7 linked regions of the Homo sapiens genome follow. The protein of the gene in region 6 purifies or fractionates together with the protein of the main gene of each other region. This does not show direct contact. Each region holds a gene or a part of one and is shown on either strand. Other genes may lie near its edges.

The links.
Region 1: the proteins of PPME1 (region 6) and RAD51B purify together in Homo sapiens (co-immunoprecipitation; one large-scale study listed by IntAct). This does not show direct contact.
Region 2: the proteins of PPME1 (region 6) and TDRD1 purify together in Homo sapiens (affinity purification with mass spectrometry, with the first as the bait; one study listed by BioGRID). This does not show direct contact.
Region 3: the proteins of PPME1 (region 6) and GMPS fractionate together in Homo sapiens (co-fractionation; one large-scale study listed by BioGRID). This does not show direct contact.
Region 4: the proteins of PPME1 (region 6) and PPP2R5D purify together in Homo sapiens (affinity purification with mass spectrometry; 3 studies listed by BioGRID and IntAct, with this or other methods). This does not show direct contact.
Region 5: the proteins of PPME1 (region 6) and TOM1L1 fractionate together in Homo sapiens (co-fractionation; one large-scale study listed by BioGRID). This does not show direct contact.
Region 7: the proteins of PPME1 (region 6) and PSMD5 fractionate together in Homo sapiens (co-fractionation; one large-scale study listed by BioGRID). This does not show direct contact.

Annotation. Positions count from the first base shown.
Region 1 is NC_000014.9:67,864,779-67,868,278, reverse strand, and holds part of RAD51B (DNA repair protein RAD51 homolog 2), read right to left. Parts: intron 3,492-3,500; exon of another isoform or gene 3,394-3,491; intron 3,277-3,393; coding exon 3,140-3,276; intron 1-3,139. UniProt on the Homo sapiens protein: Involved in the homologous recombination repair (HRR) pathway of double-stranded DNA breaks arising during DNA replication or induced by DNA-damaging agents. May promote the assembly of presynaptic RAD51 nucleoprotein filaments.
Region 2 is NC_000010.11:114,182,353-114,185,852, reverse strand, and holds part of TDRD1 (tudor domain-containing protein 1), read right to left. Parts: exon of another isoform or gene 3,486-3,500; intron 1-3,485. UniProt on the Homo sapiens protein: Plays a central role during spermatogenesis by participating in the repression transposable elements and preventing their mobilization, which is essential for the germline integrity.
Region 3 is NC_000003.12:155,933,150-155,936,649, forward strand, and holds part of GMPS (GMP synthase [glutamine-hydrolyzing]), read left to right. Parts: intron 1-1,766; coding exon 1,767-1,897; intron 1,898-3,188; coding exon 3,189-3,361; intron 3,362-3,500. UniProt on the Homo sapiens protein: Catalyzes the conversion of xanthine monophosphate (XMP) to GMP in the presence of glutamine and ATP through an adenyl-XMP intermediate.
Region 4 is NC_000006.12:42,991,070-42,994,569, forward strand, and holds part of PPP2R5D (serine/threonine-protein phosphatase 2A 56 kDa regulatory subunit delta isoform), read left to right. Parts: intron 1-3,500. UniProt on the Homo sapiens protein: The B regulatory subunit might modulate substrate selectivity and catalytic activity, and might also direct the localization of the catalytic enzyme to a particular subcellular compartment.
Region 5 is NC_000017.11:54,910,852-54,914,351, reverse strand, and holds part of TOM1L1 (TOM1-like protein 1), read right to left. Parts: intron 1,687-3,500; coding exon 1,537-1,686; intron 605-1,536; coding exon 479-604; intron 1-478. UniProt on the Homo sapiens protein: Probable adapter protein involved in signaling pathways. Interacts with the SH2 and SH3 domains of various signaling proteins when it is phosphorylated. May promote FYN activation, possibly by disrupting intramolecular SH3-dependent interactions.
Region 6 is NC_000011.10:74,230,289-74,233,788, forward strand, and holds part of PPME1 (protein phosphatase methylesterase 1), read left to right. Parts: coding exon 1-111; intron 112-623; coding exon 624-714; intron 715-3,500. UniProt on the Homo sapiens protein: Demethylates proteins that have been reversibly carboxymethylated. Demethylates PPP2CB (in vitro) and PPP2CA. Binding to PPP2CA displaces the manganese ion and inactivates the enzyme.
Region 7 is NC_000009.12:120,836,423-120,839,922, forward strand, and holds part of PSMD5 (26S proteasome non-ATPase regulatory subunit 5), read right to left. Parts: intron 1-3,500. UniProt on the Homo sapiens protein: Acts as a chaperone during the assembly of the 26S proteasome, specifically of the base subcomplex of the PA700/19S regulatory complex (RC).

The sequences.
Region 1 (3,500 bases), on a different chromosome or scaffold from region 6:
CGCTTCCCGAGTGAGGCAATGCCTCGCCCTGCTTCGGCTTGCATGTGGTGCGGGCACCCACTGACCTGCGCCCACTGTTTGGCACTCCCTAGTGAGATGAACCCGGTACCTCAGATGGAAATGCAGAAATCACCCATCTTCTGCGTCGCTCATGCTGGGAGCTGTAGACCAGAGCTGTTCCTATTCGGCCATCTTGGCTCCTCCCTCTTTAATACATTTTAAACCTAAGTAGTTTGTATTTATTCCTCCTTTGATTTCTCTCTCCTTCTTAGTAAAAAGATATCTAGATATTTATAGGAAGAAATTATTTTCAACTTTTTCTCACGTACCCTAAATTCTATATATGTGAATCCTTTAATCCTTCATCATATTAATCCTTTAAACACTTTCTCATTTGTGCTGGTTAGCCGGCTAGCTTTGCAAGCACAAAGTGGAGACAATGTGAACACATACAGAGCTACAACATAGTCCTTTTTGCGTCTCATATTTCCCTGCCTTACCTCTTCTCTAAGTCCAGAAACAGCTGGGGCTGGGACAGAAACTGTTAATTACCAATCCAATATCCATTTCCACTTCTTCCTCGCTATGAGAGCCCCAGTTTTATTCAGGCAGCAATATTAACCAGACAACTCATCATGATTGTTACGACGATCTTCTCCCCTCACTTTCCCAGCCTCTTTTTACATATAGAGGTGACTCAGTGAGAAATCTACAAGAGGACTACAGGCAACAAAAAGGAAATCCACAGATGGGAGGAGGCAGATATTATGAATAAAAGTACACTTTCCTGATAAAAGATATAGCTGGCCCTTTTTCTTCACACTGACTTGAGCACAGAATGAATCCGATGTCTGAAAATGTGCATGCCCTAGGTCTCTCTGTCATCACTGAGACCTGAGTGACCCAGTGCCAGCAACCACCTACTCAGGTCTTGTTATATGAGAGAAATAAACCTCTTTTTGTTTAAGCTACTGTTCTTTGGATACTCAGTTATCTGCAGCAGTAAGCTTTCCTAACCGATTGGCCAACCTTTCCTGATAATTCCAAATAGGGGTTAAGCTGTCCTGTAACAGAATGAATGAAATGTGATCAGACACTACAGGGCCAGTTCCATTCTATGACCCACCATGACAAACTAGAAGGTAGTATAAGAATGCCAAATCTGGCATATATATCGGAGAGCATTCATATTTTTTATTCTACTTGGCCCTATCACCAGACCTCAAAATCCATTCCATGTGTGAGCCAGATGATCACTCATTTTAAGCCTTGTGGAGAATGGAATAAAAAACCAAATACAATATAAAGTTCAACCCCTATTCTCAAATGACCTTCATAAGAGCTCCTTGTGAACTATGCAACGTAATTCCAACAAAGGAGCTAAAATATTACCTCTTCATTTTCCAACCTGCCTCTGATGTAAATACCAACATGCACATTGGCAGAAAAAGATATGAAGGAGAAATAAGTAAATATGGGGGATTCAAAAAGTAAATAATTAAGGCTCTATGCAAAGACAAAAAACATAAGACTCTCCACAAATTCATTTGGAAAATGCAGACAAGTCACCTGCTAGTCTTCTGTATGTATGCTGATATCACCCAATTCATTGATAAGGTTTTTACACTGCTCTGAACTGTAATACTGGTAATAAAATAACATGCAACAGTTTCCTCCTTAAGAAGACATCCTAAACTCTGTTTTGTATGTGGTGCAAAGAAAGCAGAAATCCATTACAGTGAACTGAACTGCTGTTATAAAAATAATCTTAATCTTTGAATTCTTTACCCAAATTCCCCAGGACCTTTGTAAGAGCTATTTGAACATTAGCTATTTATGACATAACTGGCTATTTAATACCTACTTGGCTTGTTAGTCGAAGGCTAGTCATTGGCATTTTAAAGAGTACTTGGACAATTTGAGTGAACCAGTCTTTACCAGCTTTAATCTCAAATATATTTTCATGTTCAAATTTCCAGTAGTCTCAATGTTTATTCTTCTGTTCTTTTTTTTAACCATTTATTTAAGTCAAGATCCAAATAAGTTAATCACACAGCAATTGATCAATAAGGCTTTTAAATCTGTTTTAATCCAAAGGTTCCCCTTCCAACTATTTTTTAATCTTACAATTTATTTGTTACAGAAACCAAGTTGTTTGTTCTGTTATTTCCCACAGTTTGGATTCTGCTAATTGCATTTTCTAGAGCAGTTTGATGTGTTCCTCTCTTCTCTAGCTAGGTTGTAAATTGGTGGCTGGATCTGAAGCCTTGATCACATTCAAATTTGATTGTTCTTCCATCAGAAAGTACCCCAGTGACTCGTCATCTTTTTGTGATGTTAAATGCCTAGATCCATTAGATTGTCAGAGTTTGTAATTTGGTGATATTCTATCATTCCTTATTCATTTACTACTGGGATACATTTATAAAAAGACCAATTTAGGCCAGGCGCAGTGGCTCACACCTGTAATCCCGGCACTTTGGGAGGCCAAGGCAGGCGGATCACAAGGTCAGGAGTTCAAGAGCAGTCTGGCCAATAAGGTGAAACACTGTCTCTACTAAAAATACAAAAATTAGCTAGGCCTGGTGGTAGGGCGCCTGTAATCCCAGCTACTCAGGAGGCTGAGACAGGAGAATCGCTTGAACCCGGGAGGCGGAGGTTGCAGTGAGCTGAGATCCTGCCACTGAACTCCAACCTGGGCGACAGAGAGAGACTCCATCTCAAAAAAAAAAAAAAAAAAAAAGCCAGGCACAGTGGCTCACGCCTATAATCCCAGCACTTTGGGAGGCCAAGGTGGGCAGATCACTTGAGGCCAGAAGTTCAATACCAGCTTGGCCAACATGGTGAAACCCTGTCTCTACTAAAAATAGAATAATTAGCCAGGTGTGGTGGTGCATACCTGTAGTCTCAGCTACTCGGGAGGCTGAGGCAGGAGAATCGCTTGAACCCAAGAGGTGGAGATTGCCATGAGCCCAGATCGTGCCACTGCACTCCAGCCCGGCAACAGAGCAAGACTCCATCTCAAAAAAAAAAAAAAGGCAAGGGGGAGGGGTGGTAAATGTTAACCTATGTGTAAATGTTTCATGCTGTATATAAGTTACAAAAGTAAAACATTATAATAGAAAATAAAATCTCATACCTTTCAGCACTAAATGCAGACTCTGTGTCAATGTACACCACAGCTCCTTCTAATCCTCCCATGTTGGTGGGTAATGTAGCCAAAATGCTCATCATTATACAAAACTGAGTTTTTCCACAACCTGGTGGACCTGTAATCTAAAAAAAAAAAAAAAAAAAAAAAAAAAAAAAAAAAAAAAGTTTTTTAGATAAACATCACAAGCCAGTCAAAGCAAAATCCTTTTAAGACTTTGCCATATATGCAGTCCAACTAACCTGGGTTCCCAGGAGAGAATTAAGCCCAAGACATCCATTGTATGGAATGAATTAACTTCTCCCCTCTGCATCTGAATTGGCACTAGTTATGTACCATCCTTGGAGGA
Region 2 (3,500 bases), on a different chromosome or scaffold from region 6:
CTTTGGGAGGCCAAGGCAGGTGGATCACTTGAGGTCAGGAGTTCGAGACCAGCCTGGACAACATGGTGAAACTCTGTCTCTACTAAAAATACAAAAAATTAGCCAGGCGTGGTGGTGTACGCCTGTAATCCCAGCTACTTGGGAGGCTGAGGCAGGAGAATGGCTTGATCCTGGGAGGTGGAGGTTACAGTGAGCCAAGATCACACCATTGCACTCCAGCCTGGGCAACAAGAGCAAAACTCCGCCTTGAAATAAAAGAAAACAAAAAAGATATAATGTTAATATCAGTAGCACATAAAATCAAACTCAAGGTAGAAACTATTGAGACACGTGAAGATATTTTACATTAATTAAGAAAACATAGGCTGGGCACAGTGGCTCACGCCTGTAATCCAAGCATTTTGGGAGGCCAAGGCAGGTGGATTACTTGAGGTCAGGAGTTCGAGACCAGCCTGACCAACATGGTGAAACCCTGTCTCTATTAAAAATACAAAAATTAGCTGGGTGTGGTGGCACGCACCTGTAGTCCCAGCTACTCGGGAGGCTGAGGCAGGAGAATAGCTTGAACCCAGGAGTCAGAGGTCGCAGTGAGCAGAGATGATGCCACTGCACGCCAATCTGGGCAACAGAATGAGACTCTGTCTCAAAAACAAAAAACAAACACTCCAAGGAGATAAAGCAGCCAGGAATCTTTGAATCATTATAATGTTGTTTTGAGGTGTGTAAAACAAAACCCGACTGAAGGAGAAGAAATTCAGTCCACTATGATTAGGACACATCTATCTTAGACAACTACTACTCAGAAAACAGGCGATAGTAAAGACTGTATGAGTAACAATAAACTTGACCTAATTGGGACTAATACAACCAAGAATATTCCTTTTTTTCAACACTGAGTATATGCTGGACTGCAAAAACCACCTCGACTACAAAAAAACTAGTATCATACATGCTACATTCACTCATCACAATACACACAAATCTCCATCTCAGATTATGCTTCACAGAGAATCAGACTGCAATAGCCACAGGTGAAGAGTTTCTTTAGTTTAAAAGTAGTTAAAAAAATCACAAAGGAAATGATAGCAAACATAACCATGTGACAATTAAAACTTACCAAAATAGCAAAGAGTCCAGGAAATACTATCACAAAGATGACAAATTTGATACCTTTTCAAAAGTGGGATAAATATTAAGAACCTCCAGAAACTGTAGCAGACTCAAACGCTATTCAACCTCTGATTTGCCAGCTACAGTTAGCGACACTACTGGCCACAGAGTTCTCCTGAGGGGGGCTTCTGAGAAAGCTCTTCCCTATCCTGAAGAACAGGAACAGATGTGGCTAGCACAGGCCTTCACCCCTTTCTTCCTGCAACACATTCCTGAGGCCTGGAGACTTATCACCCATTTTGTAATTAGGGAGTAATAAGCACAGCCTGAGGATGGTGAAGGAGAAAATGCAGAGCCAAGTGTGTCTGGCGGTTCCTTTGCGTCATCACTCCAGCTCTGGTTTGCCTATGCAGAGACACGCTGAGGCATCAAATAAGCTGTTATTTGCAGGCCAATCAATACAGTAAAATAAATGACAAAAAGGCATGAACAGAATGCAGAGAGGAAGAAGGTAAGTTCATAAACATAAGGGGAAAAGCATTCAACCCTATTTATAGTAAAAAAAAAAAAAATTCAAATTGAAATAAGTATGCATTTTCTGCCTAGTGGGTGCAATTAAAAAATTAAGCCACTCATTACTGAAGGGAGTATCAATTAATATACTCTTTCTGGGAAGCAATTTAGAAATATATAAGTATATATCTATGGGGTTTTTAAAAAGCATTCCTAGCCACTGACTTGGTACCTCTACATCTAGAAATCATGCCATTAAAATAATCCTAAATACCAAAAAATGCCATATATAAAAATGTCCCGTTCAAAATAGCAAAAAAGGCACGGACACAGTGGCTCACACGTGTAATCTCAGCACTTTGGGAGGCCAAGGAGTGGTGGGCTCCTGTAATCCCAGCTACTCAGGAGGCTGAGGTGGGAGAATCGCCTAGAATCTGGGAGGCAGAGGTTGCAGCGAGCCAAAATTGCGCCACTGCACTCCAGCTTGGGCAACGAAGCGAGACTGTCTCAAAAAAAAAAAAAAAAAAAAGTTAACTGTGATGGCTTTAATAGACAGCCTATTATACTATCATTCAGAATCTTAGTTTCCAGAAACACCGTAAAATGTCTGTTAGAATGGCAAATGAAAAAGCAGTAAAAAACCTGTATATTCAATATAATTATAACCGCAAAAGAAAATCAAAACTCCAGGTTAAAAAAAGATGAATGAAACATATTACATTATAAATAACAATGAGTATTCTGGGGTAGGTGGGTTGATGAGGATATCTTTTTCACTGTCTTTTTCATTTTCCAAATTATATTGAATGAATCATTTTTATAGATGAAAACATTTTTAAGACTGAAGTATCATCTAATAGTAAACCTTTTTTCCAAAAATGTGGTAACTTAATTCTAAATCAAGTAAAGGATCAAAGCAATATTTAAACCATAAAACTAGCGTATAGTCATCTTCTTAAGACACTGAGTTGGATCCTCAGTATGCTGCTGTGTGTTACACCCGAGAGTCTTTCATAACACTGTCCTTACTTAGTAACTCATGCTGGCTGTCAATCTACAGTCAGCGCCTCAATACCCTGTATTACAGTTACCTATAGACAGTTATATCTGTCATTTAAATTATTTTAAGTTGCCTGAGTGCAGGAACTCTTATTTTTAAAAATCTGAACAAAAATACCTTTGACTTCCTGCAATATCCACCATGGTGCTTTATAGAACTAGGCATTCAAAAGATATTCGTATGATTGGCCGGGAGCGGTGGCTCACACCTGTAATCCCAGCACTTTGGGAGGCTGAGGCGGGCGGATCACGAGGTCAGGAGATTGAGACCATCCTGGCTAACACAGTGAAACCCCGTCTCTACTAAAAATACAAAAAATTAGCTGGGCATGGTGGCGGGTGCCTGTAGTCCCAGCTACTCGGGAGGCTGAGGCAGAAGAATGGCATGAACCCAGGAGGCGAGCTTGCAGTGAGCTGAGATCACGCCACTGCATTCCAGCCTGGGCTACAGAGCAAGACTGTCTCAAAAAAAAAAAAAAAGATATTCGTATGATAAAAACTATTTTAAATGCACTATTGCACTGCTTTCATGCCAACCTGGACAGGGAAAATGACACCTGCTGTCCGAAATGACATCTGGCAGTCTTAAGTGGAGAAGCACATCAGGCTATGAGGTTTACTGAAATTTAATAACAAAACTTCATGTCTCAAAACAATTCCTCCAAAATCCAAAAATTAGTAAATATATTTGACTTTAGAAACAACATCCGCGTTAGACTCACGATAAAGTTTAAGTAGCAAATAAAGAGGATTTTTACTTAAAAGAAGGTCCACCCTATTTGGAGAATGTTTGAAGGACTCACCCTATTCAGGAATTT
Region 3 (3,500 bases), on a different chromosome or scaffold from region 6:
CCACTGCACTCAAGCCTGGGCGACAGAGCGAGACTTCATCTCAAAAAAAGGAAAAAGAAAAAAAAAAGAATCTTGGTGAACTTTAGATTTATTTGCTGGGGTCTTTTTGATGAATTGGAGTTTAAAAATATTCTTCCCTGTTTGCCGGTTTTTTTCCTAATTTGGATAAGGGAATCTTTGTACAGGGAGGGACTGTTCCAGTTTTACTGTCATATATAGTGTGGGTAAATACCTGTCCCAGTACACTCTAGTGATTACTTTTGTTTGTAAGAAATGAGAAGGTGAAAAGAGCAGGTTCATGGCATTCTCTTAACTTTCTCCTGTAAAGATCTTTTATGAACTTTAGGAACTGTATTGTTTAGAAAAATTATAACTTACTGTCTATACGTGGGACAAAAACCTTGCTTCTGTTGTAGTATGTTTGGAAGGAGACAATAAAGTAGTTGGTGATACCGGTGGTTTTGTGCTAATATGGTTTTCTATTGTGTATTTTACCTAAGTACATATTAAGAAAAGAAGAAAAAACATTAAACTTTACCATGATAGTTTCCGGGGAGATTTATTTTCTTTGCTAAAAACAGGACTAACGAAAAGTGAATAGGGAGAACTAGCTAAGTGGCACTCATATCTCTACCCTGATTCCCTCTTGTTTTCTGGGTGAAGATTGTGAAACAGATCCCTTCAAACCAGTGGCCAGCTACACTTCAAGTTGTTAAAATTGTCTGATTCTAATTTCCTCAAGTTATGTTCCAAACTGTACTCTCATTAACTCAAGATATTTGTGGTGTATCTTCATGTCTTTCAAACAGACATTTATATAAAACACTAATGAATCATTTTTTTGGAAGGAAGTAGTAGGATACTAAGTCCTATTTCAATGGCCTTTTTAATGAAGTGCAAATGAGAATCTCTCTAGAATGATTGTTTCTCAAGTAGAGAAAAAAAGATGAGTTTACTAATTTTGGGAAATTCACTGTAGTTTCCTCTTGGAGATTTCCAGTGCATGTTAGCATAGTATATTAATAGTTTCTGAAGTCTTGTCATAAAGACACCTATTTTTAAATTTTAATTGTGTATTTGTTTCCTAGGACTACCCATAACAAATCACCACAAACTAGGAGGCTTAAAACAACAGACATTTATTCTCTCACAGTTTAGGAGGCCAGAAGTCTGAATTCAGTGTTGGCAGGGTCATATTCTCTCTGAAGACTCTAGGGGAGGATCCTTCCTTGCTTCTTCCTACTATCGAGTGGTGGCAGCATAGTCCAGTCTGTCTTTGTGTTCACATGACCCTCATTCCCCTGTGGGTATCTGTGTATCCAAATTTCCCAGCACTTGGAAGGATACCAGTCATTGGATTAGAGCCCATCCTAATCCAGTATTACTTCATTTTAACTTGATTACATTTGCAAAGACCCTTTTTCTCCCCAGAGATTCTGGGTGGGCATGAAGTTTTGGGGATACTCTTCGACCCAGTACATTAAGTGAAAAGAGAGTTGTAATAATCACTTATATCTTTGCACATTCTGAGATACAGAATATTCCAGAGAACACACTTTGAGGAAAACACGTAGAACACAGACCTTCCTATAATCTTATATCTTGTCCTATCCATCTGGGGAGTTGAAGTGGGCAGGAGAAGGGCCTGAAACTAAGTGGGAAATGGAAAGAATGTTACTGTTCTAAGTGCCTTGCTTCTCATACTAAAATGTAATTTCTACATTTGAAATGTAATTGCTGTATTATTTTTACCTCTTTGTTTCCAGAGTTGTTTATATATTTGGCCCACCAGTTAAAGAACCTCCTACAGATGTTACTCCCACTTTCTTGACAACAGGGGTGCTCAGTACTTTACGCCAAGCTGATTTTGAGGCCCATAACATTCTCAGGGAGTCTGGTAAGTTGCTCATGTTTTTGATTACTACCCTCTGAAACTAGTTTTTGGAAGCTTGATATTAAGAGTAGGAGGATGTGGCTTTTGCTTTTTAGATGCTTTTGTTTTTATTATTTAAATCTTTGAATGTTCTATGATGTTGCTTTTTTTTCTTGAGACGGAGTCTGTCTTGCTCTGTCGCCCAGGCTGGAGTGCAGTGGCACAATCTTGGTTCACTTCAGCCTCTGCCTCCTGTTACAAGTGATTCTCCTGCCTCAGCCTCCCGAGTAGCTGGGATTACAGGCACCCGCCACCACACCTGGCTAGTTTTTTGTATTTTTAGTAGAGATAGGGTTTTGCCATTTTGGCCAGCTGATCTCGAACTCCTAACCTCATGTGATCAGGTCAGGAGTCAGGTCAGGCCAGCCTTGGCCTCCCAGAGTGTTGGGATTACAGGCGTGAGCCACTGCACCTGGCCTATAATGTTGCTTCTAAATAAAATATATTCCCCTTTGTGGCCATTTGTGGACATGCACAGAGCAGCAGAAAATTTGAATTTCCAGACTTAGATGTTCCCAGCTGAGTTTGAACAAGGTGACGCTATGCCTTCTTGTTTTCAGCTCTCATAATGTGAACAAGTCTTTTTCATGGTCTCCTTGATGCTATATCTTTTGCATTTTTATGTCTTTTGTTGGTGATTTTGCTGTTTAAAATGGATCTCAACTATAGTGTTGAAGTGCTGTCTGGGTTCCTAAGCACAGGAATGCTGTGATGTACCTTACAGAGAAAATCTGTGTGTTAGATAAACTTCATTCAGGCATGAGTTAAAGAGCTACTGATTGTCAGTTCAGTGTTAATGAATCTATAATAAATATTAAATACAGTGTCTTAAATCAGAAACACATAAAACAAGGTTATATATTAATCAGTTGATGAAAATATTACAACCAGAGGCTTGCAGGAACCTAACCCTCCATTTCCCCTGGGAGAAATGGTTCAGTATTCGCTAATTCGTTGTTTGCAGTGTAGAATATAACTATACTGCAAATTATAATAGAGAATAATGAGACTGGACTGTTTCTGTTTACAGCACATCAGTGAAACATCACTGATGTGATCAAATTCTGTTTTTTGCATTTGTGATTAAGTCCATTTAAAATGCTCTGCGAGTAGCTGAAATCAATGCATGATGACAGTCTTAACTACGCTGTGTGTGTATATGTGATTTCAGATATTGCCTGGGAGGATTTAATTGAACTGAGTTAGAGTGCTTTTCTATGGTGTGGTGATTGGTTCTACATATACCTTTCTCTAGGGTATGCTGGGAAAATCAGCCAGATGCCGGTGATTTTGACACCATTACATTTTGATCGGGACCCACTTCAAAAGCAGCCTTCATGCCAGAGATCTGTGGTTATTCGAACCTTTATTACTAGTGACTTCATGACTGGTATACCTGCAACACCTGGCAATGAGATCCCTGTAGAGGTAATTTATATATTTTTTTCTAATGCACGTTCTCAGTACCTCTTACATTTTATAATATGGTGAATGGAATAGGCTATGCCAGTGCTGTATTTCTTATGTTGGTTTTCTGTTCATAAGATAGGCTTTTTTTTTTAAATTT
Region 4 (3,500 bases), on a different chromosome or scaffold from region 6:
TTGTCCCCATCTGTGTCTCTCCTCTCAGACTGTGAACTCCAAGGGAAGGAGCTATGTTATTCTGCATTGCTTCTTTCCTACCTCTGTGTACTTGTGCAGTTGGTTCATAGTAAATGCTTCTGGGAAGACACACTATGGGCTCAGTCTCCCTTTCAGGAATGATTATAATTGTGGGACCCACAGGGAAGGTGGTTGGAAGCTGGTAACTTGACATTTAGAGCAGCAAGAAACAGGATTTTCTAAGTCCTGAAAATCCTGGGAGAGGAAGGAAAATTTAATGGGGAGTTCCCACCTTTTGCCTAACTCCTACTTCTTTAGTTCTTAGATGGGATGTCGTTTCCTTAAAGCAGCCTTCTTTGACCACCCACCCCTATCCCCAGGACCTCGCGAGGGCTTCTGTTAGTTGCTGTTTTGGCACTCAGTACCTGGTAGCGCTGGTAGCACCTAACCACAACTGTCATGAAATAATTCCTTGTGAATTCATTGTTTTATCGGCTGTCTCTTGTGTTAGCACGAGAGCTCCATGAGGCTCTCATTCACTCCTGAAGGGCCTGACACAGCAGAAGCACCCAGCATTTGAATGTATTAGTGAGTGAATGAGTGAACGAGTGAATGAACAAATGCACCAATTTCACATTAGAGCTGAAAAGGACCTTAGGGTCTAACGTTATCAGTTCATAGATGGGAAAATGAAGCCTGAACAGGTTAAGGAGTATGCTGAGACCAACTGCTATGATTTATCCACTGCCTTTCAAACAAATATGCCTAAGACAATGGGTCTATTACAAGCAATCTGGGAAAGGAGGGTGTTGAGTTCACCTTGGGCTGTTTGGTGAAACGCTGCTCAGGGTTCACAGGTATGAGATGGCAGCAGGAATTATCCATGATTTTGTAGAAATGTACCCACGTCTGGTATGGCAGGGGTATGGGGAAAAGTTGGAGCTAGGATGTGAGGCTGTGGTCTTCAAAAGCTGTTTGGCACAGTCCTTCCCTTGCCCTTTTTCTTTTGAGATGGAATCTTGCTCTGTCGCCCAGGCTGGAGTGCAGTGGCGCGATCTTGGCTCACTGCAAGTTCCATCTCCTGGATTCACGCCATTCTCCTGCCTCAGCCTCCCGAGTAGCTGGGACTACAGGCTCCCGCCACCACGCCTGGCTAATTTTTTGTATTTTTAGTAGAGATGGGGTTTCACCATGTTAGCCAGGATGGTCTCGATCTCCTGACCTCGTGATCCACCCGCCTCGGCCTCCCAAAGTGCTGGGATTACAGATGTGAGCCACCGCGCCCGGCCCCCTTGCCCTTTTCTTGTCCGGAATTTTGGGCTCTTCTAGCCAGCTTTGCTCTGTCAGGCATTTGCCAGAGCCTTTCTAATTGATCTAATAGTTATAGCAGCTGACATTTATTTTATAGAGCAGTTACTTTGTGTTAGTTTCCTAGGGCAGCCATAATAAACTACTACAAATAAGCCCGGCATGCTGGCTCACACCTGTAATCCTAATGCTTTGGGAAGCTGAGGTGGGAGAATTGCTTGAGGGCAGGAGTTTGACACCAGCCTGGGCAACATACAGAGACCCTGTCTCTACAAAAAAATAAAAAATAAAAAATTAGCTGGATGTGGGGGCATGTGCCCCTGTACTTCCAGCCACACGGGAGGCTGAGGCGGAGGATCGCTTGAGTCCAGGAGTTCAAGGCTGCAGTGGGCCATGATCGTACCACTGCACTCCAGCCTGGGTGACAGAACGAGACCTTGTCTCAAGAAAACAAAACAAAACAAATTATTACAAATTGGGTGGCTTAAAACAATAGAAATAGGCTGGGTGCGGTGGCTCACACCTGTAATCCCAGCACTTTGGGAGGCTGAGGCAGGTGGATCACCTGAGGTCAGGAGTTTGAGAGCAGCGTGGCCAACATGGTAAAACACTGTCTCTACTAAAAATACAAAAATTGGGCTGGGCATGGTGGCTCACACCTGTAATCCCAGCACTTTGGGAGGCCGAGGCGGGTGGATCACCTGAGGTCAGGAGTTCAAGACCAGCCTGACCAACATAGTGAAACCCTGTCTCTACTAAAAATACAAAAATTAGCCAGGCGTGGTGGCACATGCCTGTAATCCCAGCTACTAGGGAGGCTGAGGCAGGAGAATCGCTTGAACCCAAGAGCCGGAGGATGCAGTGAGCCGATATTGCACCATTGCAACCCAGACTAGGCAACAAGAGCGAAACTCCGTCTCAAAAAAAAAAAAAAATACAAAAATTAGCCGGGCGTAGTGGTGGCGCACCTGTAATCCCAGCTACTGGGGAGGCTGAGGCTGGAGAATTGCTTGAACCCAGGAGGCGGAGGTTGCAGTGAGAGGAGATCGTGCCATTGCACTCCAGCCTCGGTGACAAGAGGGAAACTCTGTCTCAAAAAACAAAAAACAAACAAAAAAAGAAATACATTCTCTCTCAGCTCTGGAGGCCAAAAGTTGTAAAATTAGTGTCGGCAGGGCCATGTCCTTCTGAGGTTCTAAGGAAGAATCTGTTCCACATCTCTCTCCTAGATTCTGGTGGCTTTTGACAATCTTTGGCATTCCTTGTAGATGCATCACTTTAATCTCTGCCTCTGTCTTCACACAGCATTCTCCTCCATGTGTCTCTGTCTCTGTCCAAATTTTCCTCTTCTAAGGACACCAGTCATATTGGACTTAGGTTTCACCCCAATCCAGTATGATCTCATTTTAACTTGATTACATCTGCAAAGACCCTGTTTCCAAGTAAGGTCACATTCACAGATTCTAGGTGGACATGAATTTGGTGAGGGGAGGGGGTAGGGGACTGGATACTGTGCAACACTATGTACCAGGCACTGTGCTAAGTACTTTGCATACATTGTCTCATTTAACCTTCACAATACTCCCCTGAGATTCCTTTATTATTATTATTCCCATTTCACAGATGAAACTGAGGCTTAGAAATGTTAACTGGGCACAGTGGCTCACGCCTGTAATCCCAGCACTTTGGGAGGCCGAGGAGGGCAGACCACCTGAGGTCAGGAGTTCGAGACTAGCCTGGCCAACATGGTGAAACGCTGTCTCTACTAAAAATACAAAAATTAGCCTGGCATGGTCCAGCTACTTGGGAGACTGAGGCAGGAGAATTGCTTGAACCTGGGAGGTGGAGGTTGCAGTGAGCTGAGATTGTGCCACTGCACTCCAGCTTGGGGGAGAGAGCAAGACTCTTGTCTCAAAAGGAAATGTTAAGTAGCTTTTATTCAGCCAGTAAGGCAGTAAGGCAGAGCTGGAATTCAACCCAGGTCTGTGTGACTCTGGAGTCTCTTGTGGTCTTGAATGAAGTGATACTGCTGGCTCTAAGATTCTAGAAGTGAATCCTAGAATGGAAAGGAGCCTTGGGAGATCAGGTGAGACCCCACTGACCTGCCTCTGCAGGTAAGGGTCTTTCTTGATCTGTCCTTGGAAAAAAAAATTCAATGTCCTCACGCCTGTAATCCCAGCATTTTGGGAGGC
Region 5 (3,500 bases), on a different chromosome or scaffold from region 6:
AAACTGCCATGTGAGATTATTGATGCCTTCTCTTTGGGTTGTTAATAACAAATGGTAGCTCAATTCATGTCAAGTCCTTTTAAGCCACAGCTGACAAGGCATCTCCTTCTCCATCAATGACCCTCCTTGGGTCAATGCCACATCTCCAACCTTGGGTGGAGAGGTGAAAGCTCAAGGCTCTAGGCCAGTGCTTCTCAACATTAATGTGCAGAGAAAACACCTGGAAATCTTGTAAAAAGGGAGGTTCTGATTAGTCTAGGGTGGAACATGCCAAACAAACTTTCATACTTTTAGTAGCAAAACACACTTTAAGTAGCAAAATCCCAAGTCTCGGTTATTCTATGAGATATTGCAATATCCTTCTAATAACTTCATCTTTTTGCTTAAGCTGGGTGGATTTAGGGTTGTCTCCTGTAATGAGAAAAGACCCAAGTGATACACTACTATAGTCTCCATGGGTCAAAGAAAGGCCTCCTACCTCTTGTCTTGCTGTTTCAGCCTCTGCTTCTGAGGGAGGAAACTGAACGCCTTTCTTAACCAGGTCGAGGTATACTTCTTTGACTTCGCTTACATCCACACCTCCTGGGAAGCCCTGTGACCAAGTCTGAATTCAAGAGATGAAAAAAGTTCCAGAGTTAAAACAGCAACAAAACCAAAACACAATTCTTTTTTTTTTTTTTTTTTTTGAGACAGAGTCTCACACTATTGCCCGGGCTGGAGTGCAATGGCACAATCTCTGCTCATTGCAATCTCCGCCTCCTGGGTTCAAGCGATTCTCCTGCCTCAGCCTCCTGAGTAGCTGGGATTACAGGCGCCCGCCACCACGCCTGGCTTACTTTTTGTATTTTTTAGTAGAGACGGGGTTTCACTATGTTGGCCAGGCTGCTCTCGAACTCCTGACCTTGTGATCTGCCCACCTCGGCCTCCCAAAGTGCTGGGATTACAGGCGTGAGCCACCGCACCCAGCCGAAAACACAATTCTTAAGCTCCTGATAGAAAATAAGAGATCAATAATTATGTACCCCACTCAGAAAGAGAAAGCTACTTTTGAATGCCATGGGCAAAATGCTCATTTTCAAAGGCTAGGAAAATATAAAATCTTTTAAATCAGATTTCCATGCCTCAAAATCTTGAAGAAACCCTAGGATATATACTATCAATTGTTTTTTGCTGCTCTGAATCCAAAATTAATAGATTCTAAAATAACATCAGTAGCTCTTTTTCCAAGTAACCTTGAACTAGTCAGTTAGCTGGAAGTTTCCCTACCTGCAAAGTGAACACACAGATCACTGTCTTTCCTATTTGACACAGATAAAATAGAAACTGAGAGGAAAGCAGGGAAATGACTACAAATTCTTCAGAAAAAGGGCACCATCCAATGCCAAAAAATTATTATTACACAGAAACTAAAATAGCAAAAATGCTTTTCTAGCTCAATCCTAGATATATAAAAGATAAGTGAAACAATCAGGAGGTAAGCTATTAAATCCCTAATCTTAGAAATTTACCATCCCATGAGGTATACAACAGACTTACCTTAATGAAATTCAAGATTCTATTCTGAATGTCTAATGGCAAGTTGTATCTGGGATTCAGTAGCTTAACTAAATTCTCTTTAACAAATTCCTTCTTCACAATCAGAGACTGGAAACTTGGACCACAGTTCTGCACACACATGTCAATAAGCTAAATTAGAAAAAAAATTAAACATTATATTTATCTGGCAAAACCACCTCCTAAAAATGTAAGGGAAAAACTGCTAAATAATGGGTTCCATCAGCATCCTAATTAACAAACATAATTTAGTATCTACTAAAATATATGGCAAAATGTTAGGTTCTGGGGATATGTGGAAGTATGAGCATAATGTAACAGTCTGGAGGACAGACTTATTGAGGAGTCCCAGCACATCCAGAAGGGCATTAACACCAATGCAGAGTACTAAATGCTAAATGCTGAAGGGACGTGCAGGCCAAACATATGAGCTATGGATGGAATAATATCTGTCCCAGTTTACCCAGGGTAGCACAGGTATATTCCCAATGTCCTGTTTATTAATGATGACACACCCTTTCACTTTCAAAAATGTCCTGGTTTGGATGATAAATTACACAGTCACCCCAGCTATAGGCCCTTATAGGCAAGAGTGATTATTTAGGGCTAGGTGGTCTTACAAGACTTTTGGAAAAGGCTAACTGGAAGCTGGGCTTTGCAAAATGGCTAAGAACAGTAAAAATGAGTATAGAGCTATATTCTAGACAGATAAATTGTATGAAAAATATATAAATGTGGAAAAATGGGTAAGTTATGAAGGGGGAGATAAGTATTCTGGTCTGTCTCTAGTAGAGGCATCCTGATATAGGTAAATTGGGGACACTGGAAAGATAGGGTGGATAAAGTCCGTCCAGGTTGTAGAGAAGTTTGTGTGGCATGCAAAGGGTGTGGATATTATCTTGAAGGCACTATGAAGTTATGGAGGGTCTCTGTTAGTTTGTCACCATCACACCTGTACCCTGAAATTGAGGAAAAGGTTAATGTGTGCAAAGTAATATTCTGGATAGGTTGTCAGGCAGCACTCTGCAAAGGCAAGCGGAGGGAGAAGAAACCTGGAATGATAGAAAGATCCAGTAGCAATGCACTATTTCAGGCATGTTATAGAAAAGGCCTAAACTAAGATGATGTGGGTACAAGAAAAGGAGGAGTCATGACACCATTATGAAGGAAGAACTTTGAATGACAGTGCTGGTCAAAAAAGGAAGATGACTGAAAGTTAAGTGACTCTCATTCTGCATGAGGACCCCTGTGACGGAAATTTGGAAGAGGGGGTGGTATGGCTGGTCTAGGTGTAAAAATGATGGGCTGAAATTTAGATATTTTGAGTTCAAAAGATAAGGGGCATTTAAGTAGGTGTTTAGCAGTGAGCTGGACACACACAGCTATAGTTCAAGAGAGTGAAGGGCCAAAAGTGAGTCATCAAGGCTGCCTACAATGAGAAGAGAAGAGGAAGGGCTGAAACACTGGGGTTCACCTACTATACGGGCCAACGAAAATCCAAGGAAGGCAATCAAAGAGTAACTGACAGAAAATGAAGCACAAAATCAGGAATACATAAGGCACCCCTTTGGTAAAGTCAAAAGAAAAGTTTCCTGGAGGATGGGGTGTTATACAGTTAAGAAGATGGTCTGAGGAACATCAGTTCCCTTGAAAAACACATTTGCAATAAAGCAACATGAGCAGAAACTTGACTAAGAAAGAATGAACCAATACTGAAGAACTGCATGCAGGAAGTAGATTTCTAAAAGTAAACTAAAAACAAAATTAAATCTTTAGTTTCCATGCTACCACCTCAAATTAGAAAGGTCATAGAAACCATAGCATGACCAGGATAGGTATAATCATCTCTGCAGAATAGAAGCCCTGAAAATGGACTTCATGCCATGCTTTGTATTTTTAGTCTCTCTTTAATGGCAATACATAAAGCGGCAGCATATAGCGTTTAA
Region 6 (3,500 bases):
CTCCAATTATGCTGATTGGACATAGCATGGGTGGTGCTATTGCAGTCCACACAGCATCATCCAACCTGGTACCAAGCCTCTTGGGTCTGTGCATGATTGATGTTGTAGAAGGTGAGTTTTCTTAGCACTGACCAAATCAGGATTTCACTTATAAGAGACATCCTTGGTAGATTATTACCTTGTCTTAGTTTATTGTTGATTTCATTCATCTTGAAATATGTCCCTCTGTCTTTATATCTTTTTTAAGTTTATACAAGATAACCATTTTTCCATGTCATCAAAAACTCTTCATTAACATCTTTTTATGGCTGCATAATATTTCAATCCTATGTATGTCCCATAATTGTATTTAATCATATAAAAAGAAGCTGCCATGTCTTTTCTGACCCAGCTTCAGAAGTCACACTGCTGCTTGTGAATACAAGTCATCCTCTTCAGTGTGAGGGCATGACATAAAGAAGTGAATACCCCAGAGGCAAAAATTATTGAGGGCCATCTTTATTTCTCTGCGAGCATCACTAAATTCTGCTGTCATCAAGAGCAGATATATAGTAGTTGACTCAGTAAGTGTAAATGCTCAGAATAAGTTAAATATGTGGTTACAGTTTTTGTTTAACATCCAGGTACAGCTATGGATGCACTTAATAGCATGCAGAATTTCTTACGGGGTCGTCCTAAAACCTTCAAGTCTCTGGAGAATGCTATTGAATGGAGGTAACCAACAAATCTTTGTCGCCTTTATTTAATTAATTTGTTTGTTTGTTTGCTTGCTTATTTATTTATTTAGGAGACAAGGCCTCACTCTGTCACCCAGGCTGGAGTGCAGTGGCATGATCCTAGCTCACTGCAACCTTGAACTCCTAGGTTCAAGCAATCCTCCCACCTCAGCCTCCCAAGTTGCTAAGACTACAGGTACACACCACCAAGCCTGGCTAATTTTTAAATTTTTTGTAGAAACGAGGTCTTGCTATGTTGCCCAGGCTGGCTTCAAGTAATCCTCCTGCTTTAGCCTGGCCTCAAGTAATCAAGTAATCAAATTCCTGGCCTCAAGTAATCCTCCCACTTTAGCCTCCCAAAGTGTTGGGGTTGTGGCGTGAGCCACAGTGCCCAGCCACTGTTGCCTTTATTCTAAATGTTAGATTGTAGCTTTTCTTCTTTTTTAGGTCAAGCACCAAGTTCAAGGAATAGAATTTCAGTTGCCACGCCTTATTGTAATAGCATATGAGGAAACATTATATAAACAGCAGAATTTTTTGAACATTTAAAAATATTTTAGATTTGGCTCAGTTGTCTGAAACCCATTGTTTTCCCAATACACTATAGTACCTCCTGGAATCTTAGTAATTATTGATCATCTGCTGTCTAGCTGTTTCTGCCTCTGAGGTAAGAGGTTAGACTAGGTGGTTTCTAAGGCATCATCCACCTCTGATGCTTCATGGTTTTAGATTTACTTTCTGTGTTTCAGATAAAATGGTGGAGAAATGGAAGATGGCTATAGGTTCCATTCCCTCAAATTTATTTGGATTTTGGGTAAATAAACTCAATGGGTAAATAGTTTTTATAAAAATCAGTGACAGAATTCCATTTAAGCAAAGGAATGAATTTATTCATTAATTCAGTTAATCATTTGATAAAGTATTTATTAAACACTTATTTTGTGCTAATGAGTGAAGATTCAGAGATGAATAAAACACTGTCCCTTCCCACAAGGAGATCAGTCTTTGGATAAATGTCTTCATCATCCTATCTTCCTTCCTATTCTTCTAACTCCATCTCCAGTCTCTTCTTCAGAACATTTTCTCTTAAGTTCTCCAAACCACCCAGATGACGCTTTCAGCAAAATTACAAGAGACCTTTAAGTCTCTATTATATTGCACTGTATACCCTTAAGTTTTCCAATACTCCCTTGAGGGATATGGCTCATATTGTTAATTTTCATTAATGTCTGTCTTAATGCCCTTCCTGCATCATAAGGGAAGAAGCTATTCTGTATTTCTTTTCTACTTTCATATAGCATATGGCATACTGCCCTAGCAGGCAGAATATATCTGTTAACTGAATCAGATATCAAGTGGAAATTTAGGACTTGGTAAATATATCCTAGGCGTTTTCCTAGGACAAATGGTCTTATGCAAGAATATGGCTTGTCAGAATGATGTTTGTGTTGGTGAAGTTTCTACCACTTCCTGTTCACTACTGTGATGCAGGATTCCTGTTCTCACAGAAATATCAAAGATCTATCTTGGGCAGATAGCATCAAGAATGTAGCTGCTGCCAGCTTGGCTTGTATCTCAGGTGCCCTGCCTGCTTCCGCAGTAACAACAAGTGAGAAAGTTATTCTAGACTTGGCTCAGTTGTCTAAAGCCCATCCAACTTTTATCCAAACTTTTTTTTTTTTTTTTTTTGAGACAGGGTGTCACTCTGTTGCCCAGGCTGTGGAGTCCAGTGGCATGATTACAGCTCTCACCGCAGCCTTGACCTTCTGGGCTCAAGCGATCCTCCTGCCTCAGCCACCCAAGTAGCTGGGACTACAGCTGTGCACCACGATGCCCAGCTAATTTTTGTTATTTGATTTTTTTTTTTTTTTTTTTTTTGTAGAGACAGGGTTTTATCATGTTGGCTCGACTGGTCTTGAACTCCTGAGCTCAAGCAGTCTGCCTGCCCGCCTCGGCCTCTCAGAGTCATGGGATAAATGGGTATGAGCCACTACGCCTGGCCCTTTTTCCGAACTCTAAAAATTTATTCAGTAAATTTTTTTTTCTAGTGCCTAAGATGTGTCAGTACCTGATCTAAGAACTGGGGGATGAATCAGGCTCAGTTCCTATCATCAAAAAACTGGGGATGCAAACAAGGAAACACATAAACATAACACAATGAAGGAAGCCAGGGGATATACCTAATGCAGCCTGGGTATCATGGTAGGCCTTCTCTTAAAGTAGTCTTGTTTCTTTTGCCAGATACAGGATAGAATAAGGGTTCTGTTTGTTAAATGTTAAGATGTTCTGGGTTTCATGAGAGTCATTGATCTTTCTGAACCTGAAAATTATTATACTATGAGGTATTTGGTAATTTTGTTTTTTATTCTGCTGGATATCTGAATCAAGTTTATGACTGATGGCCATTTTGGCTATTCTAGATTTTTTTTTATGTTGAAATATAAGGCCAATGATTTACTGCTTTTGCTCTCATAGGTTTCCTAATGAGAGGCAGCAGGGGTATAGTCATTAAGAACCTGGGCTTTAGGCCAGGTGTGGTGGTTCACACCTGTAATCCCAGTGCTTTGGGAGGCTGAGATAGGAATATTACTTGAGGCCAGGAGTTTGAGACCAGCCTGGGCAACATAGCGAGACCCTGTCTCTACAAAAAATATATATATTTTTTTAATTAGCTGGGTGTGGTAGCATGTGCCTATAGTCCCAGCTACTCAGGAGGCTGAGGTGGGAGGATCATTTGAGCCCAGAAGTTCAAGGTTATAGTGAGCTATGATCATGCCACTGCAC
Region 7 (3,500 bases), on a different chromosome or scaffold from region 6:
GTCTCGCTCTGTTGCCCAGGCTGGAGTGCGATGGCGTGATCTTGGCTCACTGCAACCTCCACCTCCTGGGTTCAAGTGATTCTCCTGCCTCAGCCTCCCGAGTAGCTGGGATCACAGGTGTCTGCCACCAAGCCCAGCTAATTTTTGTATTTTTAGTAGAGATGGGGTTTCACCAGGTTGGCCAGGCTGGCCTCGAATTCCTGACCTCAGGTGATCCACCTGCCTTGGCCTCCCAAAGTGCTGGGATTACAGGTGTGAGCCACCATGCCTGGCCCCATCTGTACTTCTTGTTCAAATCTTTGGCCCATGTTTTAATTGGGTTATTTATTTTCTTGCTATTTAGTTTTGAAAGCTCCTTACATATTCTGAAAAGAAGTCTTTTATCAGATATATTCTTCACAAAGATTTTTCTCCATTTGTGACTTTTCTTTTCATTCTCTTAACTGTATGTAACCTTCGAAGAACCGATTTTTTTTTTTTTTTTTGAGACTGAGTCTCACTCTGTTGCCCAGGCTAGAGTGCAGTGGTGCGATCTTGGCTCACTGCAACCTCTGCCTCCCAGGTTCAAGCGATTCTCCTGCCTCAGCCTCCCGAGTAGCTGGGACTACAGGTGCCTGCCACTATGCCTGGCTAATTTTTGGTATTTTTAGTAGAGATGGGGTTTCACTGTGTTAGCCAGGATGGTCTCTATCTCCTGACCTCGTGATCTGCCCACCTTGGCCTCCCAAAATGCTGGGATTACAGGCGTTAGCCACCGCGCCCAGCCAATTTTTGTATTTTTAGTAGAGACAGGGTTTCACCATGTTGGTCAGGCTGGTCTGAAACTCCTGACCTCATGATCCGCCCACCTCAGCCTTCCAAAGTGCTGGGATTACAGGCGTTAGCCACCACCTAGCCTGAAGAACCGAATGTTTAATTTTGATTAATTCTACTTTGTATCACTTTGTTCTTTTTTTTAGACAAGCTCTCTCTGTCACCCAGGCTGGTGTAGTGGAGCAATCACAGGTCACTGTAGCCTCCACCTCAGCCTCCTGAATAGCTGGGACCACAGGCATGAGCCACCACACCCAGCTCAATTTATTCTTGTATAGATCATGCTTTTGGTGTCATATTAAAGAAGTCTGTTTAACTCAAAGTCATACATTTTTTTTTCCTGTTTTCTTCTAGAAGTTTTGTAGTTTTAGGTTTTATATTTAGGTCTATGATCTACTCTCATACACTGCTGGTAGAAATGTAAAATACTATAACCACTTTGGAAAACAGTTTGCCAGTTGCTTAAAAAGTTAAATATACACCTACCATACCATCTAGCCATTTCATTCCTAGCTATTTACTCAAAGAGAAAAGAAAGAATATTTTTATGTAAAGACTTGTACATGAATGCTCACGGCACTGTCATTTGTAATATCTCCAAACAGAAAACAATTCAAATCTCAAATGTTCACCAACAGGGGAATGGATAAAAAACTGTAGTACATTCATACAATGGACTTACACTCAACAATAAAAAGGAATGAACTATTTATTCATGCCACATAGATAAATCTCAAAATAACTATGCTATGTGAAGGAAACCAAACAAAAGAATACATAATGTATGACTCCATTTGTATGATCCCTTCCCCCCATGTCTGGCCAAAATAAAGGGCAAGTTCATCTACAGTGAGAGAAAGCAGATCAGTGGTTGACTGGTTGAAACAGGGAGAGATTAGCAAGGGGTATGAGGGAGCCTCTGGGAGTGAAAGATACATTCACTATCTTAATTGTGGCGATGGTTTCATGGGTATATACATATGTCAAAACTTGCCAACTTGTACGTTTTATTAAGTGCAGTTCATTGTATATAAATTATACCTTTGAAAGCTGTTTAAAAAAAAGTAGTGGTACGTTAAACTGCACAGTGCACAAATTTCAGATCCTATGTGACCCTTCTTTGCCAACGAGCCAAAGAGTTAATGCTTAAAATTAGTCTTGTTTGATTTTCATGTTCTAAAGCAGTAATCTTAGGACTTAAACTCTCTCAAAAAAAACTGTCAAGATTCTAACTTACATCTGCAAGATCAGATTGTGAACCAACACACAACAACTTATGTGGTTTAGCCAGGATAACAGCAAAGTATCTGAAGACTGCCAGATACTATCCAGAGAATTATTCCCACAAGGTGCAGTTGGTATCTACTATGTATCCAGTTCTGAATTATTCTGTCTTTAAATTCCATTAAAATTGTTCCCTAAAGCACTGCTCCTTCATTCAGCAAACTATCTTCCCCATGGACCTGAATCCTCAAATTCTGCCTCACTTCAGTTCCTACTGCATCTCTGCTGTCAACTTGCGGTATGACCTCTGGAAGTCTCTTCATCTCTAATAGGAGAGGTTGGACAAGGTGGCCACTCTAAACTCTGTGAGTCTCAAATTTAATTGGGCGTATACTGCATTATGTGCTGGGCCCTAAGAGGGATGCAGACATGAACAAAATGCGGTCACTGCCTTCAAAGAATTTACAAACTGGAAATAGACACACAGAGAACTATAACATAGGTAATAGTGTCAATTATCATTAACAGAAATAACAATAATGTCCTTTAGCAGATCTAAGGAGCAGTCATTTGCAACTGGAATAATTGAGAAAAATATTTTGGAGGAGATGGCTCTTTAGTGGGCCTAAAAGGATGGACAGAATATGGACAGACAGCAAAGTATTTCAGTTAGAAAGGCTGGTATGAGTAAAGTTAGGAAAGTGCAAGTCAGGCTTAAGGAAAAATAAGGGTGCCACATGGTAGCTGGAGCAGATGAAAAGAAGTGGAGTGGAGGAAAAAAGTGAGGTTGGAAAAGTAGGATGGAAATATACTGTAAAGGGCCCAAATGGCATTCTAAAAACTCACTACAGGCAATGGGAAACCACGGAAAAGATTAGCACCAGCTGACTCGAGATGTATGCTCACTGGGGTTACAAGGTGGGAAGGAATTTGCTAGAAAAGGAATTTGCTAGAAAAGGAATTTCAGAGGTAAGGAGAAGTCAGACTAACACTACAGACCTAGCAATAGGGAAAAAATGAGGGCTTGAATTAAAGAGGAGACAAATAAGAGACATTTCATAGGCAGACCCAAATAATGTTAACTGATAGACATCATGAATGGAGAACACTTACAGAAAAGGAAGGAATCTTAGAAGGTCAGAGCCAAGAAAGCGCTCTGAAATCATCCACTGTTGATTCAGTGGTTCATAATCTTTTCAAGTAGTAAGGTCACTTGAAAGTCTTTGATCACAAACATTTCAAAACTCTTTTAAATGATCAAATTATCAAATACAAAGTGGTTTTTTTTTCCTTTTTTTCCCCAGAATCCAGGTAAGAATTATAAAATGTTTTTTTAATCTTTTTTTTTTTTTTTTTTTTTTTAGACAGAGTCTTGGCTGGGCGCAGTGGCTCATGCCTGTAATCCCAGCACTTTGGGAGGCCGAGGCAGGCAAGGCAGATCACTTGAGGTCAGGAGTTCGACA